3 linked regions of the Homo sapiens genome follow. The protein of the gene in region 2 interacts with the protein of the main gene of each other region in a biochemical or structural test. Each region holds a gene or a part of one and is shown on either strand. Other genes may lie near its edges.

Region 1 (4,476 bases), on a different chromosome or scaffold from region 2:
GCTGAGTGGTGCCGGGGTTTGGGGGAGGAAGCTGGTGTTTCCTGCCTCTGCAGGGAGGTTCACCTTGCTTTGTCCCCTCAACAAAGCCAGGCTCTCGTGACAACGGGTCACAACCTGGACAGATCTGAGGAGCTGAACACCTCCAGCTTCCACAGGGCTCAGCCAGGACCTGGGCCCAACAGCATTCCCTCCCAGATGGGGCCACCACGCCACATCAGCACGACGAGACCTCCTCCCAGGGTGCCCCCCCCAGCCCAGGGTCCAGGCCCCAGGCCAACACCCAGAGGGGCTGGCTTTGTTCACAGCCCCTCTCCAAACCCTGCCCCCACCCCAAGCGGCCCCGCGGTCCCCTCCAGGGCAGGGTTTCCAGAATCCACCTGTCCTTAGTGTGTTCACTGCCCCTTGGCAGCCCCGAATTTTTGTACCTGTTTCCTGTCCCCTCCTTGTGTCCAGGTAGCATCCCCAGGGCCCTCGCCTCCAGCACAAATTCCAGCCTGCAGAAACCTTGTCAGCTCAGGGGGCCACGGTGCAAGGCACGCCCAGGGGAGGGAAGCTGGGGCTGCCCTGGGGTGCCTTTCTGTGCAGCTGGAGCAGTTCCATATCCTATGAAGAAACTGGTACAGAACAGCACTCCTCTGAAAAATTAGCAACCTCATCTACACAGAGACTGGACTGGAGAAGCCCCAGCAGGTGCAGCAATCCCAGAAGTGAGAGTCAGAGCTGTGGACGCCACCCTTGCTGTGGCCCAAGCAGTGAACTGGGGCCGCTAACCCCCAGGAAGGGTGAAAAGCCCCAACACCCAGAAGATGAGACCCTAGAGCTTCCCTGGCCACCCCAGCAGCCCTCCCCATCCCAGGAAGCAGACAGTTGCATGGGAAAAGCAAGGACGGCACTCAGCCAGACAGGCAAACAACTGTGGCAAACCAGTGCCAGCAGACAAAACCCAGAAACACAGAGCAAATGAAATGGTAAAAATCACTGTCAACCCCCAAGGTTATCTGCGCAGAAAGGGTCCATACAGTGGGGACGGCCGTCCTGAGGCCCGCTGGCCGGGCTGGCCCTTGGCTGGCGTCTGGGAACTGGGATTTCCGAGGGGCTCCCTGAACCCCGCCTCACTGGGCCTGTGCTATTTGTACAAGGTGGTTTAGGCAGAACACTCACATCCCTGCTGAGAGTCTGGAATTGTAGCGCAGCCCAGGCAGAAGCTGCTCACGTGACCAGCCCCCGGGTACATCACCAGGCAGGGCATCCCCAACATCGCACACGCAGAGTCCCAGCTGCTTGCAGGGGAGTGAGGCGCATCCTGCGTGACCCCCACCCCAGGAGAGGCCTCCAAAGCTGAGCATGGTGCCCCTGGACTCGGCCCCAGGAACCTTTCCCTTGGCCGATTTTGCTCAGTGTCCTCCCTGTGGGAAATCACAGCCGTGACTACCGTGACCTGCATGGCCTCTGTCCTCCTGGAGAATCGCCGCCCTGGGTGGTCTTGGGGACCCCAACTCAGTATCACATTAGAGTTCTTACCCATTAAAAAGAATGCTTAGTGAGAACACTGGGCAAAGGGCAGAACAGACATGCCTGGGGGCCTGTGCTGAGGCACTCGCCCAGTGCACCCCACCAGGAGCAGCCTGGGAACCAGCCCAGGGAACGAGGCGCCAGCACCTGGGGAAGCCTGGGGACCCTGCCTCACAGGATTACAAAGGAAAGCTGACCGCCAACTACCAAAACAGAAACAGCAAATCACTGACACAGGAATCTGCCTCTTTATTGACATGCTAAGTAACAAGACGCAGAGGCAGGTCTCATCGCAACCAACCGTGACCACAGAGGACCACAGAGGAGTGATGACAGGGAGCTGTGCTTCTAAGCAACTGCAGGAGGGAAGCGCAGTCGGAACAGCCTGCTGGCTTCTAGTGGTCAAATGTGCCACTCACACAATGGCATCTGCTGAAAAAGCTGCAAAATGTCATTTATAGGTTAGTGAACACATCCGTCTCACAGACCCCAACTAACCTGAGAATTCCAGAGGAAGACCACAGAATGACAGAAGGGAGATCAGAAACAGAAGAAAACATGCCAGAGCTAACCCAAGTCTGCAGAAAAGCCCCCACCGTGAGGAATCCCAGCTGGGATGATCTGGTGTGCTCCCTGGGGGCAGTGGCCACAGGCTCCTCTGACAATACGACAAAGGGACACACACTGCAGGGCAGGGAAAACACAGAACTTTATTTCAACAGTCATTAGGTTCCACCACACAACAGGGACACCATGGGATTGTTTTTTCATTTAATAAATACAAATGAATAAAAATACTTTATTTTGTCAAGAGACTGCCTCTCCTCCCTCTCCCGATCTCACAGAAGCCTCCAGGCAATTGTGTGCCCCTCCAGGGCCTGCACCCACAGACCCCGTCTACTTGCACAAATGACTCTTCTTTACAGAGAGGGCTCCATCTCATTTGCCTGCAAATACAACATAGGTATAATACCGCTCCTTTCCCCCATCTCCTTCCAAATACGAGTTCTTGCCCTGCGTTCCATTTTTTTTTTTTTTTTTTTTGAGACAGAGTCTCACTCTGTTGCCCAGGCTGGAGTGCAGTGGCGTGATCTCAGCTCACTGCAAGCTCCGCCTCCTGGGTTCACGCCATTCTCCTGCCTCAGTCTTCAGAGTAGCTGGGACTACAGGCGCCCGCCACCACGCCCGGCTAATTTTTTGTATTTTTAGTGGAGACAGGGTTTCACTGTTAGCCAGGATGGTCGCGATCTCCTGACCTCATGATCCGCCCGCCTCAGTCTCCCAAAGTGCTGGGATTGCAGGCGTGAGCCACAGCACCCAGCCTCCAAATTTTAAATGAGCCCCTTGTGAGAAGGAAAAGAATCTGCTGTCCACAGAAGCCAGGCGTGGAGCTACTTCAACCAGAAACTGTCACCCATGACACTCTGTGTGGGTTCAGTCACACAGACCACGATCCATTATGGAAGGGAGGGAGAAAAGGATCACATCAAATCTACTGTATGCCTCATAGACCATCCCTTATTTCAAAAATAGAAATTCCTATTTAAATGCCGCCCGTGTGCGACAGGCCTGATATTTGCTTCTGCATGTGGCAGATCTGTTATTGCTTACACTGTGGCCTCCTGGCCTGTGCTGCTCAGCTGGCCCTGTTAGAGAACATGGGAACCACATCAAAATCCTAAGTCACAAAACAAGGGCTCTGTCCCCAGCCTGGGCCCAGGGGCCCACATGCCCACCTCCACAGCCCAGTCAAGTGTGGGGATAAGGCACTCCTCTGTGCTCTGAGCTAAGATATGGTAGAGTCCCTTCTGAATTTTGAGTTGCAAAGAATGATTTTGTGCTAATAAATTCCCAGTGCATCCAAAATGTACAAAAACCCTAGAATTTCCAGTTTTTAGATTGAAAAAAAAAAATTTTTTCTGTAGATCCAGAAGAAACTTTCATTGAAACTTTAAAGACCTCACCTGCACCTGCTCTAGTAATGCACTAGTTACTAATATACAAACGTAAATCTTTGATGAGTATGGTCGGGAAAAAACTGTCTGTCCTTGTGATCAGCAATAAATTTCTTTTTTCTTTTTGAGACTGAGTCTCGCTCTGTTGCCCAGGCTGGAGTGCAGTGGCGGGACTTCAGCTCACTGCTACCTCTGCCTCCCGGGTTCAAGCGATTCTCCTGCCTCAGCCTCCTGAGTAGCTGAGACTACAGGCGTGCACCACCACGCCCAGCTAATTTTTTGTAATTTTAGCAGACATGGGGTTTCACTGTATTAGCCAGGATGGTCTCAATTTCCTGACCTTGTGATCTACCTGCCTTGGCCTCCCAAAGAGCTGGGATTACAGGCACGAACCACCGCACCTGGCCAATCAGCAATAAATTTCTTTTCTATTTACCCCATTTCTTATTAATTCACACTTCAAAAAAGCATTTCCTGGAAGTATTTCTAAGTGTGATGGTTTGTAATATATAACAAATGAAAAGATGTAATTAGATTATAAGAAAAGCATCTGCCTGTAAAATATGAAGGAAGAAAGGAAGTAATGGACTCCTCATGGGGCCCACAGGGAACCAGGAAGGACCCAGAAAGGGTGCCGGGCCCTTCCCCTGTGCTGCAGCTACAGGGCCCCATTTCTTCAGAAGGAGCGTTCTGGGTATTCCATCGTCCCCTGGAAGTCTGGCAGGTACAACCCCCTCAACACTCCAGGGAGGGAGGGAATCCACAGGAAGCCATGAACTGCTGGTTTCAGCGGGGAGAGGTAGTGCTGACAGCTCTGATAATCTACCTGAAGCCCTTTGTGAGGAATACTGTAAAACTGCAGTAAGCTGTCAATATTCGACATTAAGTCATCATTTCAGAAGAGAAGCCTGTTTGAAGTAGGAAAGGTTTGAAAAAAAAAAAAGATGCCATGGTTCTTGCAAGTCTGCCTTGTTTGGTACCAGCACAGAGCATCACTGTCACTAAGTGT
Region 2 (7,158 bases):
GTCTGACAGAGTCCCAAGATTTTTCATTTCTCTGCATAACAGTAAAAGGCAACATTATTGGCCTCCAACCTTCTTTTTTTTTTTTTTTTTTTTTTTTTGGAGAGGGAGTCTGCTTCTGTTGCCCAGGCTGGAGTGCAGTGGGTTGATCTCGGCTCGCTACAACCTCCACCTCCCGGGTTCAAGCGATTCTCCTGCCTCAGCCTCCTGAGTAGCTGGGACTACAGGCACGCGCCACCACGTCCAGCTAATTTTTGTACTACAACCTTCTTATAAGCAGATTTGGACTGATCTTCTCCTTTGGGTATGTCAGATCATCCTAAATTTTAGAAGCAGTTGATTCACTTTGGAATTCAGAATGATTCTTGTATTAGAAGATAATTTGTGGGTATTAATTTTTGTTTAAGTTTAAAATAAAAGTAAAGATTCATTTTGGATATCAGTTGAAACCCCTTAGTAACTCAGTTTCTGTTATTCTTGTTCTCATTTCCTTTAAATACACTTGTTCTTGGCTTTTGCCATTTTGATTCTGTGAAGTAGGCAGGAGCAGGGATTAATTTATACAGTATTCCTGTTCTGAACAAAACCAGAAAAGTCACTGTATAAACTTGACTTAAAATAGTATCTTTCTCTTTTCATGTATTTTCATTTGGGGGAAAAAAAATCTCTTTAATTGTAACCTGAATTCAAGCTGTACCCCTCCATGGTCCTACACTCTAGAGCTAATCTGGTTGGGCAGAAAGGCAGAAGGATGGTATATTGTCCCATTGTGCCTATAATGTATTTTAAATTGGTCATTCCACCTTACCTAATGGAAATTCTTGCAGCTTTCCTAGTGCTCATCAGCGGTTTTAGGAATTCACTAACACCCCCAAAATTTGTTTTTTGTTTTTTGCTTTTTTTCCTTTTCCTTTTCTCTGTGATATCATGAGCCTGTAAGGACAAATGGCATATTTGGGCATAACTGCTTGACTCTGTAACTACTTTTTTAAAATCAAAATTGAAAAGGTATTAATTGCTTCTGGCTTTTTAATTTTTTTTTTTAGAGACAAAGATGAAACCAGATAGGAAATACAGTTTTTATGTTTTCTACTTACTAAAATATTAGTTTCTTCTAAATATTACTTTATTTGTATTTCACTAAATTCCAAAGCAAAAATCAGATATCTGAGATGAACAATTTTGAATGGGTTAAGGTAGGAGTAATAAGCATTGTGTTCACTCATACATAGGTGAGGGAATTTTATTTATAGCGAGAAATATAAAAGTATTTTGACTTACTCTTTTTTCAAGGAGTCGCTAGGAAAGGGTAGAAGAACTGAGAATAAGACATCTAGATTCCATTTCTGGTTTATATGTAGCTCTTTTGCCTAATTTATATATAATTTTGTCATAAGATAAGTCCAGTAACTGTCCTGTCTTAGATAACGTACAGAGGCTGAAGTGACCAAAGATCCATTCCTTATTACTTTTCTAATTAAAAGAAGAGTTAGCTAGATTTCTAGTAGTAGTATTCTAGATATTGATAAGACATTATTCCTAATGCCAACTACAAATATTCAACTACTCAGAATGTATTTAAAAAATTGTTTGGTACAGCATTAATGTTGGTGATTCCTTTCTCCCATCTTATTTCCCTTCCCTTCTATTCTTTCCCATGTATTTCTTTTGCCTAAAAGAATATTGGTATGATTCTCATTTGCTACTTTGAGTATATAACTCCATCAGACTTTCCAGAGTTCTTCAGGGATGGAGCTCAAAGTTTACATTTTTCCATATATGTCTTTTTTTTTCTTGACCTTTTTCCACCCTGTAATTTCCCCTTGACTTACCCACTGCCCTCCCCAATCTGCAACAGTGACAGTTTGCTGCCTCAAAACAGAGCATTCAAATGAATTCGCTTAGCCAATAACTTCTGTGAAGTTGCCTTTTCTAATGGTGTTATTACTCAGTGATGCACAAATGTGGTATTTGCCCTACTGGTAGGCAAACAAAGGTCTGGTTAAGAATGGTAACCTGCTGTTTTCTTTAAAGGAGAGCCAAAGACTTGTGCTTTACTCTGTTTTGGTTTTGGGGGAAGTAGTAGCCATTTTGATCATGAAACCTTTTAGTATTTGTGAGTTGATTGTACTGTGTAAGTAGATTTATCTAAAGTTAACTGTTAAAGTTAGCTAGCCTTATAAAATGTAAAAGTAATGAAAATTCATCAGTTTCTCTAAGCCAGTGAATGTCGTCTTTTGTAATATTGTGTATAAGCATTTGTGCCCACCCCAGCTTCTGCTATCACTGTGGTCAAGTCATGGGTCTGAGTAAAAGAATTCTTGAGTATGTGACTGGTGAGAAATAACTAACTATAGTCAGTACATGTACAGATTGTTAAAATTCAAGACAAAATACTTTCACTAAAAAAAAGGATTCGTCTCAGTAAAGAAGTATTCAGTTGCTGTCACTTACATACAAATGGTGGTGGGTAGCAGTCTCACCATTTTTCTACTCTCTTTTTGCTCGTTTTAAATAATTGAGTAAAGGTTTTATTTGTAAAATCTATCTGTAAAAAGCACCTGTAACGATTTATATGTCATTGAAAGGAATGGCCCAGTTACTTTTTAGGAGAGATTAATAACCTACCTGGAAATTAACTGCAGTGTTTACTTAGATTTTTTCCCCCTAATAAGAGTCTAAGTGTGTTAAATTTTTAACTGATGATATGGTTACAGTGTTGCAAGGTGATCTCTTCCCCTGAAAAATCTGCCTATCCTTTTAAGAAAAATTAGACCTACTAAACTAAAGCAAATTTTACTTTCATCATTAGCACCTAAACAAGCAAGCAGTCTACTACTGTCATCATTTTACCTGAGTGCCCATTTTGCTGATCCACATTCATACCTTTCTACCTTGGACAGCTATGATTTTTATATTTATTTGTTGCTTCAGCTCAGGTTTATGAAATTTTCCTGCTGAAATGACTTATTGGGAGTTGTAGGTTGATTATAGTTACTATTAAACATTTTCTCAATTTAGCTTTTCTGAGCCACTTCAAGAAGAAAGCTGTTTTTGTCAAAAGGTACTATTAATTGTAGCAAGTAAATCTTAAGATTTGAATTTTTAAGATTTTATTTCTGTGTTCACTAAAGATCTTTCCACAAGTAATAGATTATAATTGATAAGTAATACTAGCTATAGTGTTAATAAAGAGTAAGACTATCACCACCAGGAATAAGTAACACCTTTTAATAATAAATCTATTCCTAATAGGTATGTTTTCAATACTGCACTGAACAAAGTGGGTAAAGAGCCCTTTGAAATCTTATTGTAATAAAGGGACTTACCTCACCACTGGAATCCTTGTTTTCAGAGCCTCTGGATTTTCAGCCAAACACTGAATTTCTCCTAAACTTTATCCCTGAAACATCCCTAGAGAACGAACTTTATTTTCACAAGAAAATAAGGCACAATAAGGGGGAAGAACTTAAACCTCAACATAATATCGTGTCCAAAAATGTGTATTTAGAAAAATAAAATCCTGTGGAGTTTGTTATCCTAATGTTTATTTTATACTAGATAAGGTGACTTGTTTTCTTGTATTGAGGTCTTACTGTTTCAGATTTGTTTTTGTTTCTGTTCTAACTCTAAGCAGACAGAGCTCACAAGTCTTTGGCATCCATTTTAGGTTGTACACTCAGAGTCATCTTATAACTGGAAACTGTCAGGTGGTCCCCCACCCCAGTGAGTGTATGAAAGAGTCAAGAAAAAGATTGGAAACAAACTATTGGGTGAATAATTGGTTGCTCTATTATTATTATTATTATTATTTGCCTTTTTTTAATCACCATTTATTTGTGTAATCTTTCTCCATTGATTGGCTGTCATTCTTATAATATCTGAACTACCCCATAAAATAATTCTCTGACTTAAAGGCATTTAGCTTTTGCTTATCGTTTTTACATCCTCTATTCAACTAAGACACTGTCTTGAGAGTTATTTTTTCCAGATGGATCGTTGGCCTAAATTTTCACACTTCTCCCCTGTTCATCCTTTTTCCTCTTCCCTGCTTCCTGGGAATAAAAGGAACTTTTTTAAAAAAATTAATTAGTCCACAGGTCTCATTATCTTTCTTTATGATTAATCTATGACTTTTTGGTACAAGAACAATGGAAAAAGTGAATTAAGGTAATGAACAAAACCTTTCACCCACTTAAACATTTTCCAGTTTTGAGATTCCTCTTCGTGTTTGTGGTGTCTTCCCCTTGTTACCCCTTCTGCCCTTTTTCTCTGACTATGGTAATTTGGTCTTTAGGCTCATATCAGTCTCCCCGAGACATTCTGCAGTCATTATCACCTTTTTGGGTGGATTTTATTTTGTTTTATTTTGTTTTTTTTAAAAAAATAACTTTTTAACATTGGTGCATATTTGCTTGGGATAGAGCTTGTGTAATTTACCAATCGTATTGATTGTAAGTGATTGTGCCCTGCAGAGGTATATTTAACAAGACAAAAATAATCTTGGTTAATAAAGGAGCCCATGAGATTTGAGTCAGGTTGTAAGTGAAATCACTTACACTTTTGGATAGAATTTATACTCCTGCTCTTATAAATCAGTGGTAGACTTACCATTTTTTAAAGTTTTCTTGCATTTTTTTGTTTTTTTATTGCCACAGCTCCCTATTCTTTCTTGCCTGCCTCCACCCCCCTGTTCAGGAAAAAAAAAAATTGAGCCTTAAAGTGACAGCTGATTTTTTAATTGCTGAATTTTGTGAAATTTTACTTTTTCCAAGTGTTTCCAACTTTAAAAAGAGAAGTGAAGACAAATAGGTTGGAATGGTGAAGACAAATGGATTGGAATTTCACAGGCTGTGAATAATTCCTTAGGATCTGGCAAACCGTGAAGTCTTATTTGAAGACCTTATCTCCTGAGAGTTCTTTTGGAGTAGGAAAAAGAACCCTATTTGAAATAGACCGTTTTTCTCTTGTTTTTAATCTGTTTAATATTTCTGATTTTTAAGCAGCTTTCAAAACAAGTGTGGTGGAAAAAAAGAAATAGTAGTAGGAAGATGTTTAGGGCAGCAGAACTCTGGGTCTAAATAAGTACATGTTCCCACTTGTTGCCGATTTTTGAGAGTACTAGGGCCATCTTTCTCAATTTTGTATTATTTGTGTGCATGTTTATATCAAAGATGCCCATTTTGTTAAAATGCTATTTCCTTTATTACCTTGGAAACTGACTCAGCCTCATGTTGCTCCTAATTAGTGTTTAAGGCTCCCATGAGTTGCAGATAAAATGATTTATTTTAACAAGTAGAAGGAGGTGATTCACCTTTTGGATTGTAAATATATGAAAATGTCTACAAGGTCTTTATCTGCTTTCTGTCAGCATTTATATTAAATGATAAATTAATGAGGAACGTGTGTATTTTGTAAATGAGTGTGTGCCATCTTATTCTAATCTTGAGATTACTTTCTTACACGTTTTTAATGGAGGGGGCTTTTTTAGGTGAAAAATAAAGAAATGGCTAATCTGCATGAGCAAACACATACTTGGAGTAGCCAATTTTGTGTGGACATCACAGGAATTAGTCCAATCTTAAATAAGCTACAGTCATATTCCTTCATTTGTCACACAGTGATTGCACATTAGGAGTGAGGGTAGTGGTTCTGAGATACTAGCATCAATTCAATGAGATTCAATGGCTAACATCCAGTGTCTCGGTTTTTATGGCGCTTCTGAAAATTAGGACCATCTTTATGCTTAAGTGAAAAGGACTTGTCATGGTAACTTCCTGATGCAAAATGTTTTTTTGTCTTTCCATTTTTTTTTTTTTTTTTTGAGATGGTGTCTTGCTCTGTTGTCCAGGCTGGAGTGCAGGGGCACAATCTCAGCTCACTGCAGCCTCTGCCTCCCCAGTTCAAGCAATTCTCTTGCCTCAGCCTCCCAAGTAGCTGAGAATATAGGCCTGCGCCACCATGCCCAGCTAATTTTTACATTTTTAGTAGAGATGGGGTTTCACCATGTTGGCCAGGCTGGTCTCAAACTCCTGATGTCAAGCGATCTGCCCGCCTCAGCCTCCCAAAGTGCTGGGATTACAGGCATGAGCCACTATGCCCAGCCTTGTCTTCCCATTCTTGCTGACTTCTGATTGTCCTGAAATCCCCACCCATTAGTCATTCCTCGAAGTTAGTGGATATAAGTAAGTTTGTCTAATAGAGACCATACGTTAGTCAACACCTCAATGGCATGAAGAAGAAAAGGGAGGAGGTTGGGTGTGGTGGCTCGTGTGTGTAGTCCCAGCTACTCAGGAGGCTGAGGCGGGAGGATTGCTAAAGTCCAGGAGATCAAAGCTACAATGAGCTATGATGCTTGATCGCACCACTACACCAGCCTGGGCAATGGAATGAGACTCTATTATTCTAGATTAAAAGAAATGTAAGAAGTACAAAAATCAAATGCAGCATAGGTGATTTTAGCAAACCAAATACACAAAAGACTTTTGTATACAGGAAAATTTGATTAAGTATTGGGCATTAGATGATACCAAGGAATGGCATTTTCGTTCATTGTGAAACATGATTATGTAAAAAATCCATTTTTTTAATAAAGATGGATAACACAATAGCTGCAATTTCCTTTAAAGTAGGAACTAAATATTTTTAAAAAGTAAATAATGCAGCCACGCACGGTGGCTCACACCTTGTAATCCCAGCACTTTGGGAGGCCGAGGCAGGCAGATCACCTGAGGCCAGGAGTTTGAGACCAGCCTGGCCAACATGATGAAACCCCATCTCTACTAAAAAAAAAAAAAAAAAAAAAAAAAAATTAGCCGGGCATGGTGGTGGCCACCTGTAATCCCAGCTGCTCGGGAGGCTGAGGCAGGAAAATCGCTTGAACTCGGGAGGTAGAAGTTGCGGTGAGCTAACACCACTGCACCCCAGCCTGGGCAACAAAGAGTGAAACTCCGTCTCCAAAAAAAAAAAAAATCAATAATGCACATTACCAGTGAAGGTTATTTACTTCTCCTACCAACAATTAGCGATTAGGTGTCCATTGGTATATCTGACCTCAAGGGAAGGGACCATAGTAAAGAAAGCTTAGGGTATGAGGAGTGGTAACTGCTGCAGCCATCCCTGAATGATTATAAATTCTGGACTGGGAATTACAAAACTAGC
Region 3 (8,735 bases), on a different chromosome or scaffold from region 2:
CAATGGTTGAACTAGTTTACAGTCCCACCAACAGTGTAAAAGTGTTCCTATGCATCAATTCTTGAAGAGATAATATTGAAAGAGGGATGATTCTCAAGCCCTTTCAATTTTTAGATAATTTGGAGAGGTATTTAATAAGTATATATACCTGGTTAATATATTTAAGTCATATGGTTCATTTTAGTTCACAATAACAAGGAAATGGAGTTAGTCTGTGTCTCAAAATAGATGGTATAGTGTCTGTAGGTGTTTACGTGGCCTCCTTAGTGGCCTTAATGTTCAACTTTTTAAATTACCACGCTGGATTTCCAGGTTACAAGAGGACCCACCTGTGGGTGTCAGTGGCGCACCATCTGAAAACAACATCATGCAGTGGAATGCAGTTATATTTGGGTGAGTTGAAAGGTTTAACAAATAATAGGTGTGTGCTGAATCTTTAAGAAAAGTAAACATATAACAACTGTCTAGGAAAAGAAACTGAGGTGGAATGAGAGATCTTAAGGACTAAAACTGCAAGATAAATTAGAAAAAAAAAATATTTCAATTAGAGTTTTGGCCCAGCACAGTAGTAGCTCAACGCCTGGGAGGATCGCTGGAGCCCAGGAGTTCACCAGCCTGGGCGATATAGTGAGACAGTGAGACTCTGTCCCCTCCCCACCAAAAAAAGTTTTGGCCCAGTCTGGGCAACATAGTGAGCCCTTGTCTCTACAAAAAGTATAAAACTAGCTGAGCATGGTGGTGCATACCTGTGGTCCCAGCTACTTGGAAGGCTGAGGCAGGAGGATCACTTGAGCCCAGAAGTTTGAGGCTGCAGTGTGCCATGATTGTGCCACTGCCCTCCAACATGGGCAGCCAGCAGAGCCAAGATCCTGTATCAAAAAAAAAAAGGAAAAAGTTTCAGCAGTTATATAAAGTTTATTTGCTCTTTGATGTTATTACATATGGTTTTATAATCTCTTGGGGTTTTACTTTTAAAATACTATTCAAAACTAAATGGAATGGAATAATAAAGGAGAAACAATAAGTTACTTTATATAAAACATATCACGCAAATGCTCTCATTCTGTTGGAGCTGTTAAAAGGTTTGGAACCAAAAATATTAAGAACTTCCACTGTGGCAAGAATTTAAGCGAAAATGATTCACAGCCCAGTGTGAAATAACAGAATGCAGCCATTTGAGAAGCAGTTGTAAATTTTACCTACTATGTATATTGCGTATATGCTTTTTAATTTAAAATTTCCTTATGCTTTTTCTTTGGTTTTTCTAGACTTGATCTATTTTTTCTTTCATTCCTTTGAAACTAGAGTTTTGCATTAAAAAGTAAAAGGAGTATGTTGATAAACAGAATTCTGACACTACAGAATCAGCTACAAGAGTCTACATTTAAAGACTAGTGGAAAATGAGTGAAGTTCATCCTCATAAAGTACTTCTGAATTTGAGTTGAATACATGGCACCTTCAGGATATTATCCTGCTGCTTTGAGATCCTGAATATGCCTTGCAAGTAATAATTAAACTTTATGCTCCATCCTGGCTAACACGGTGAAACCCCGTCTCTACTGAAAATACAAAAAAAAATTAGCCGGGCGAGGTGGCGGGCGCCTGTAGTCCCAGCTACTCGGGAGGCTGAGGCAGGAGAATGGCGTGAACCCCAGGGGGCGGAGGCTGCAGTGAGCCGAGATTGCGCCACTGCACTCCAGCCTGGGCGACAGCGAGACTCCGTCTCAAAAAAAAAAAAAAAAAAAAAAAAAAAAACTTTATGCTGCTGCTTAGGAAAGATGAAATTGGGATGTGGGGACAAGGATCTGAGCAAACAAATCTGGCTTTTTGGTGACAACTATGCTTAGCCTATTTGAACAAGAGTTATGGCTCCATTGGAAAGCAGGACACTTGGGTTTAGCATCATAACTAGAGTATTGCTTTACATCATATTGCTGTAAAATGAAAAGATGTCTTTTCCTCTTAAGAATATACATATGGGCCAGGTGCGGTGGCTCACGCCTCTAAATCCCAGCACTTTGGGAGGCTGCGATGAGTGGATCACCTGAGGTCAGGAGTTCGAAACCAGCCTGGCCAATATGGTGAAACCCCGTTTCTACTAAAAATACAAAAATTAGCCAGGCATCTGTAATCCCACCTACTCGGGAGGTTGAGGTAGGAGAATCACTTGAATCCAGGAGAAGGAGGTTGCAGTGAGCTGAGATCATGCCATTGCACTCCAGCCTGGGGGACAAGAGCAAAACTCCGTCTCAAAAAAAAAAAAAAAAAAAAAAAAAAATATATATATATATATACACATATGTACAAAATGACTGGTCAGTATTAATGAAAGTTTTTTTGTGCTAAAATTATGGGCAAGTTTTTTTGTTTGGTTTGGTAAAACCACCCTAAAAAGAAAGCTTAGAATGAAAGTTAATACTTTATGCCTGGGTCTATGAAAATCCAGGGCTAAGGTGTTACTAAACTCTATCTTAAAACTCCACAAATCATCAGAATGAGTCCCTCTTTTTCTGTTGAAGTTTATCCTTTCCATTCTTGAAAATCAAGAAAAAGCAGAATGAGAAACTTCTTTTAATCAGAAATCTTCTTGTTTTCAGACCAGAAGGGACACCTTTTGAAGATGGTAAGTCATACTCATTATGTTTTCTATAGTGTTATGAGGTTACTTTTTAGTAGAAAATTGTAACACCAACATATCTACTTGAAGCCATTTTCTATGGTTAATAGGCCAAGTTAAAAGTAAAGCTATGGAAAATTTATACTTCATAAGGGACTTCTTCCCACAGCAGCTTGGTCACCTCCATTGGTAACCAATATTAAAGGTTACTTTAATATTTTCCTGTATAACTGTAAGCCTGGATGGCAGTGTTTATGTTGAGAATAGTTTAAATTTAGGTGGCCTTAAAGATATCTCTGAGGTGAACACCAGAAGAGTAAATCATGCTTTTTTACTTTGTTATCTTTGATATTGACAGGGTGTTGAGCTGAAATTTTTCATAAACATACATAGCTGCCAGTAGTTTCAAGTACTACTAGCATTTAACACCCATAAGTAGTTATCATTTTGCATAATCTTTGGCATCTCAAGTTGGGTATTTTCATCAGGGGCTAGGAAAATGGGAAACTAGTTCTAATACCGAATTTATAATTGAACTTATCAAACTGATTTTAACCAGGAACTTAGACTTTTCCCAATTGTAGTGTTGGATTTTAAGAAATTATTAAACATCTTTGTTATCATTAACAAAATGACTTCAGAATTAATCCATCAAAAATATTTATCCGAGAATACTGACTGCAGCAGTTTGTAAGGACGTAACCTGAATGTCCAGTAGGAGAAATGGTTAAGCAAATTATGATGTATCTGGATTCTGGAATATGTACCTGTTAAAGAATAAGGTAGATTTGGACATACTGTCTTAAGAGGACAAAAAAACTGCACGATAATGTTTGTCGTAGCATCACATTTTTAGCAAATACATATATGCATGTGTGTCTATGTTAAAGGGTTATATATCAAACTGTTACCAGTGATTATCTGTGGGGGGGGTAAGGAGTTGAAGGAGGTACTTAAGGACGTTACCTTTTTTCTCTACATCAAGGGTTCTCAAGTGTGTGATCCATAAACCCCTTGGGGTCTTGGAGACCCTCTCGGGGGACCCATACGATCAAATCTCATCATACTAAGACTGTTGACCTTTGCATTGATGGTACAAAACCAATGGTGGCTATAACTACACCTAAGTAGTTTCGTATCTTAGAACAAATCAAGGCATTAGACAGTGGCACCAAACCATACTAATAGTGATTATATTCTTTGCATTTTAAAAGATGCCAGTTGGCCAGGGGCAGTAGCTCACACCTGTATAGCCAGCACTTTGGGAGGCTTAGGCAGGTGGATCATGGATCACTTGAGCCCAGGAGTTTGAGACCAGCCTGGGGGAGCCCTTCTCTACAAAAAATTAGCCAGGCATGGTGGTACATGCCTTTAGTCCCAGCTACTTGGGAGGATTACCTGAGCCCAAGAGGTCAAGGCTGCAGTGAGCCCTGGTGGAGCCACTGAGCTCCAGCCTGGGTGACAGAGTGAGACCTTGTCTTTAAAAAAGTTACCAATTTTTCTTAATTTCTTAATTTAAAGACATTTTTATTAGTATTAGGAAGCTCTGGACCCTTGAGTATCTATGTGGGTTTTTTTTGTTTGTTTTTTGTTTTTTGTCTCGCTCTCTCACCCAGGCTGGAGTGCAGAGGCGCAATCTTGGCTCACTGAAGCCTCCGCCTCCGAGGTTCAAGTGATTCTCGTGCCTCAGCCTTCCAAGTAGCTGGGATTACAGACATGTGCTACCATGCCCGGCTAATTTTTGTATTTTTAGTAGAGATGGGGTTTCACCATGTTGGCCAGGCTGGGGCCTTAAACTCCTGACCTCAGGTGATCTGCCCACCTTGGCCACCCGAAGTGCTGAGGCATGAGCCACACCCAGCCGAGTATCTGTCTTTTTAATATTCTGTATGATATGAAGTAGAATGTATGAACAAAGCACTTCTGCATGTCATAGTATGATAGTTGTCTGGAAGAAAAGCACTTCTACAGTTGTTTGAGTTGCAATTTGAATGACTTTTTTTCATGGAACATTTTTTACTTGAAAATACAGACAAGCTGTGGTTATTCAGGTTTGAATATATGGCAGACATATTCTCAGAAGTAATGTAATAAGCTCGGTGTGGTGGCGGGCACCTGTAATCCCAGCTACTCGGGAGACTGAGGCAGGAGAATTGCTTGAACCTGGGAGGCAGAGGTTGCAGTGCGCCAAGATCGCACCATTGCACCCTAGCCTGGACAACAGAGCAAGACTCCATCTCAAAAAAAAAAAAAAAAAACAGTGGGGGGATCTAAGTGGGTTGTTAGGTTAAGGATAGCAACTGAAGATATTTGTTGCTGTTGATAAAATAACAGCTTCCTGATACTTACTTTTTGATGAGATTAGTGGGTAGTGTTACCTGTTGTGATTTTTTTGATAGTATATAATGGAATATGGCAACATTTGGAGGATCTGTAAACTCGAGTCACCCAATATTTTGCAGATGTCCCATGAATAATAATACAAAACCATGAATGGGTAAAACACGTATGTGAAGTGAACAGATTTTAATGTAACTGAGTACAAAAAGTTGACTAATAATTTCAGATTCTATATTGCAGCAAACCTTTAAAAGAACTACCATTTCTTCTTTGGTATAATATCAAAACAGAATAGCTACAGTCACCTGAAAAAGCTATTCAAATACTACTTTTTTTGCTGGGTGCAGTGGTTCATGCCTGTAATCCCAGCACTTTGGGAGGCCAAGGTGGGCAGATCACCTGAGGTCAGGAGTTCAAGACCAGCCTGGCCAACATGGTGAAACGTCGTCTCTACTAAAAATACAAAAATGAGCCAGGCGGGATGGCACGTGCCTGTAATCTCAGCTACCCCAGAGGCTGAGGCAGGAGAATTGCTTGAACCCAGGAGACGGAGGCTGCAGTAAGCTGAGATGGTGCCATTGCACTCCAGCCTGGGCAACAGTGAGACTCTGTCTCAACAAAAAAAAAAAAAAAAAAGGAAGAAAGAAAGAAAGTACTCCTTTTTTCAAGTACATATTTGTGTGAGGCCAGATTTTCTTCATGTACTTAAACTAAACGGTATTGTAATAGATGGAGTGCAGAAGCAGATAAGAGAATCCAGCTATCTTCTGTTAAGCCAGTCATTAAAGAGACAGTTGCAAATATGTAAAACATTGCTTACACTTATCACCAACTTGGGGAGAAATATAATTTTAATTTATATTCTGTGTAATGGGTTTGCAGTTTAACCTACCTTTTTTTTTTGGAGACAGAGTCTTGCTCTTGTCACCCAGACTAGAGTGCAATGGCGCGATCTCTGCTCACAGCAACCTCCGCCTCCCAGGTTCAAGCAATTCTCTTGCCTCACCCTCCTGAGTAGCTGAGATTACAGGCACCCCCATACCCAGCTCATTTTTGTACTTTTAGTAGAGGTGGAGTTTGACCACGTTGGCCAGGCTAGTCTCAACTCCTGACCTCAGGTGATCCGCCCACCTTAGCCTCCCAAAGTGCTGGAATTACAGGCGTGAGCCACCCCACCTGGCTACAGTTATTTTTAATGAAGATTTTCTGAGTTAAAGTTTTTTTGTGTGTGTGAGACGGAGTCTTGCTTTGTCACCCATGCCAGAGCATAGCGGCATGATCTGGGCTCACTGCAACCTCCACCTCCTGGGAGGGTCCTTTGCCATGTGGTAGTCAGACCCTCTCAAAATCCTTTAACCAACTCCCATTCTAAGCTATAATAAACTATTTGTAGTTCTTCAAATATGCATTTTAAATCTTGGTAGCTAGGGCCTAGTTGCCTTCCAAAAATATGACAGTTAACACTCCCACCAATAGCAACATGAATGTGCTTGTTCCCCAACCGCTTGCCAATGCTGCGTGTTACCATTCTAACATAAATAGAGTATATTTAGGATGTTTTGTATGCCGAACCAACGTTGACATACTAACTTTTATGTGGTTGTACAAAAACCAGTATGCAGTTGAGAACTGATGAAGAGATTAAAAAGTCGTGCTTGTCTTTACTATAATTATTTTGTTTTCTCTCTAGGTACTTTTAAACTAGTAATAGAATTTTCTGAAGAATATCCAAATAAACCACCAACTGTTAGGTTTTTATCCAAAATGTTTCATCCAAATGGTAAGTAGCATTTTATAGATTTTGCAGATGATAGTGGGGAAAAGAGTTGTTTCCCTCCTTTTAGCTCTTTCACCTTACTTTTTACTGTTAGGGCTCACTTGTAGGTGTTGCTTCCATGTCCATGTGAGCCACGTATTTTGTTGTGGATTTTTTTTTTTTTTTTTTTTTTTTTTTTTGAGACGGAGTCTCGCTCTGTCGCCCAGGCTGGAGTGCAGTGGCGCGATCTCGGCTCACTGCAAGCTCCGCCTCCCGGGTTCACGCCATTCTCCTGCCTCAGCCTTGTGAGTAGCTGGGACTACAGGCGTCCACCACCACGCCTGGCTAATTTTTTATATTTTTAGTAGAGACGGGGTTTCACCATGTTAGCCAGGATGGTCTCGATCTCCTGACCTTGTGATCTGCCCACCTTGGCCTCCCAAAGTGCTGGGTTTGTTGTGGATTTTTGGTTTGTTTCTTATTTCTTCAGAGACAAAGTTATACTCTGTCACCCCTGCTGGAGTGCAGTGGTACAGTCACAGTTCACTGTTACCTCAAACTCCTGGGTTCAAGTAATCCTCCTGCCTCAGACTCCTAACTAGCTGGGACGACAGGTGTGGACCACCATGCCCAGCTAATTTTTTTGTTTGTTTTCTTTTTCTTTTTTGTAGACACAAAGTCTCTGTGTGTTGCCCAGGCTGGTCCTTGAACTCCTAGCCTCAAGCAGTCCTCCCACTTTGACCTCCCAAAGCACTGTGATTACAGGAATGGGCCATTTTTTCCAGCCTTTAGCTATGTTTCTGTAGCTAGACTCTTACAAAGCTTCCAAATTTGAGGTCAAGTTGTTTTAATAACTCCTGAATTAAAAGTAATACATGGTCGGGCATGGTGGCTCATACCTATAAACTCAGCACTTTGGGAGGCCAAGGTGGGCGGATCACCTGAGGTCAGGAGTTTGAGACCAGCCCGGCCAACATGGTGAAACCCCATCACTACTAAAAATACAAAAATTAGTCAGGCATGATGGTGGGCACCTGTAATCTCAGCTACTCAGGAGGCTGAGACAGGAGAATCACTTGAACCTGGGAGACGGAGGTTGCAGTGAGCTGAGCTCACAACACTGCACTTCAGCCTGGGTGACAAACCAAGACTCTGTCTCCAAAAAAACAAAGGTAATATGTAAGCCAGGCACAGTGGTGCACACCTGTAGTCCCAGCTACTCCAGAGGCTAAGGCAGGAGGGTGGCTTGAGGCCAGCCTAGGTAACATAGTAAGATCCTGTCTCTACTAAAAGAAATAGATAAAAGTATTATCTATTTATTTGTGGAATTGTGAAAAATAAGAAAAATCTGTTGGCTAAAATTAAGCTTTTCAAAAATACAATTTTGGCCAGGCGTGGTGGTTCATACCTATAATCCCAGCACCTTGGGAGGCCAAGGTGGGAAGGTTGCTTGAGACCAGGAGTCAGAGACCAGCCTGGGCAACATAGCGAGGTCCCATCCCTATAAAAAACAAAAAAAATATCAAGGCATGGTGGCGCACACCTGTAGTCTCAGCTACTTATGGAGGCTGAGGTGAGAGGATCACTTGAGCCCAGGAGGTCAAGGCTGCAGTGAGCCATGACTGTGCCACTGCACTCTAGCCTGGGCAACAGAGCAAGATTCTATCTCAAAAGTACAATTTTGCATATACAAAGTTGGAGTCAATGACCACACACAGTGGTTCATGCCTATTAATTCCAGCACTTTGGAAGGCTGAGGAGGGTGGATTGCTTGAGCCCAGGAGTTCAAGACCAGCTTAGGCAACATGGTGAAACCCTGTCTCTACAAAAAATACAAAAATTAGCTGGGCACAGTGGTGCGTACCTGTATTCCCAGCTACTAGGGAGGCCGAGGTGGGAGAATTGCTGGAGCCTGGGAGGTTGAGGCTGTAGCAAGCCATGATTGTGCCACCGCTCTCCATCCTGGGTGACAAAGCAAGACCCTATCTCAAAAAAAAAAAAGAAAATTGGGATGTTATATA

Evidence for each region.
Region 1: the proteins of RC3H1 (region 2) and UBE2G2 form a complex in vitro, tested with the Homo sapiens proteins (one study listed by BioGRID).
Region 3: the proteins of RC3H1 (region 2) and UBE2B form a complex in vitro, tested with the Homo sapiens proteins (one study listed by BioGRID).

What each region holds. Positions count from the first base shown.
Region 1 is NC_000021.9:44,766,843-44,771,318, forward strand, and holds the end of UBE2G2 (ubiquitin-conjugating enzyme E2 G2), read right to left. Parts: 3' UTR 1,738-4,476; downstream 1-1,737. UniProt on the Homo sapiens protein: Accepts ubiquitin from the E1 complex and catalyzes its covalent attachment to other proteins. In vitro catalyzes 'Lys-48'-linked polyubiquitination. Involved in endoplasmic reticulum-associated degradation (ERAD).
Region 2 is NC_000001.11:173,929,455-173,936,612, reverse strand, and holds the end of RC3H1 (roquin-1), read left to right. Parts: 3' UTR 1-5,529; downstream 5,530-7,158. UniProt on the Homo sapiens protein: Post-transcriptional repressor of mRNAs containing a conserved stem loop motif, called constitutive decay element (CDE), which is often located in the 3'-UTR, as in HMGXB3, ICOS, IER3, NFKBID, NFKBIZ, PPP1R10, TNF, TNFRSF4 and in many more mRNAs.
Region 3 is NC_000005.10:134,374,071-134,382,805, forward strand, and holds part of UBE2B (ubiquitin-conjugating enzyme E2 B), read left to right. Parts: intron 1-312; coding exon 313-393; intron 394-2,598; coding exon 2,599-2,624; intron 2,625-6,648; coding exon 6,649-6,738; intron 6,739-8,735. UniProt on the Homo sapiens protein: E2 ubiquitin-conjugating enzyme that accepts ubiquitin from the ubiquitin-activating enzyme E1 and transfers it to a E3 ubiquitin-protein ligase. In vitro catalyzes 'Lys-11'-, as well as 'Lys-48'- and 'Lys-63'-linked polyubiquitination.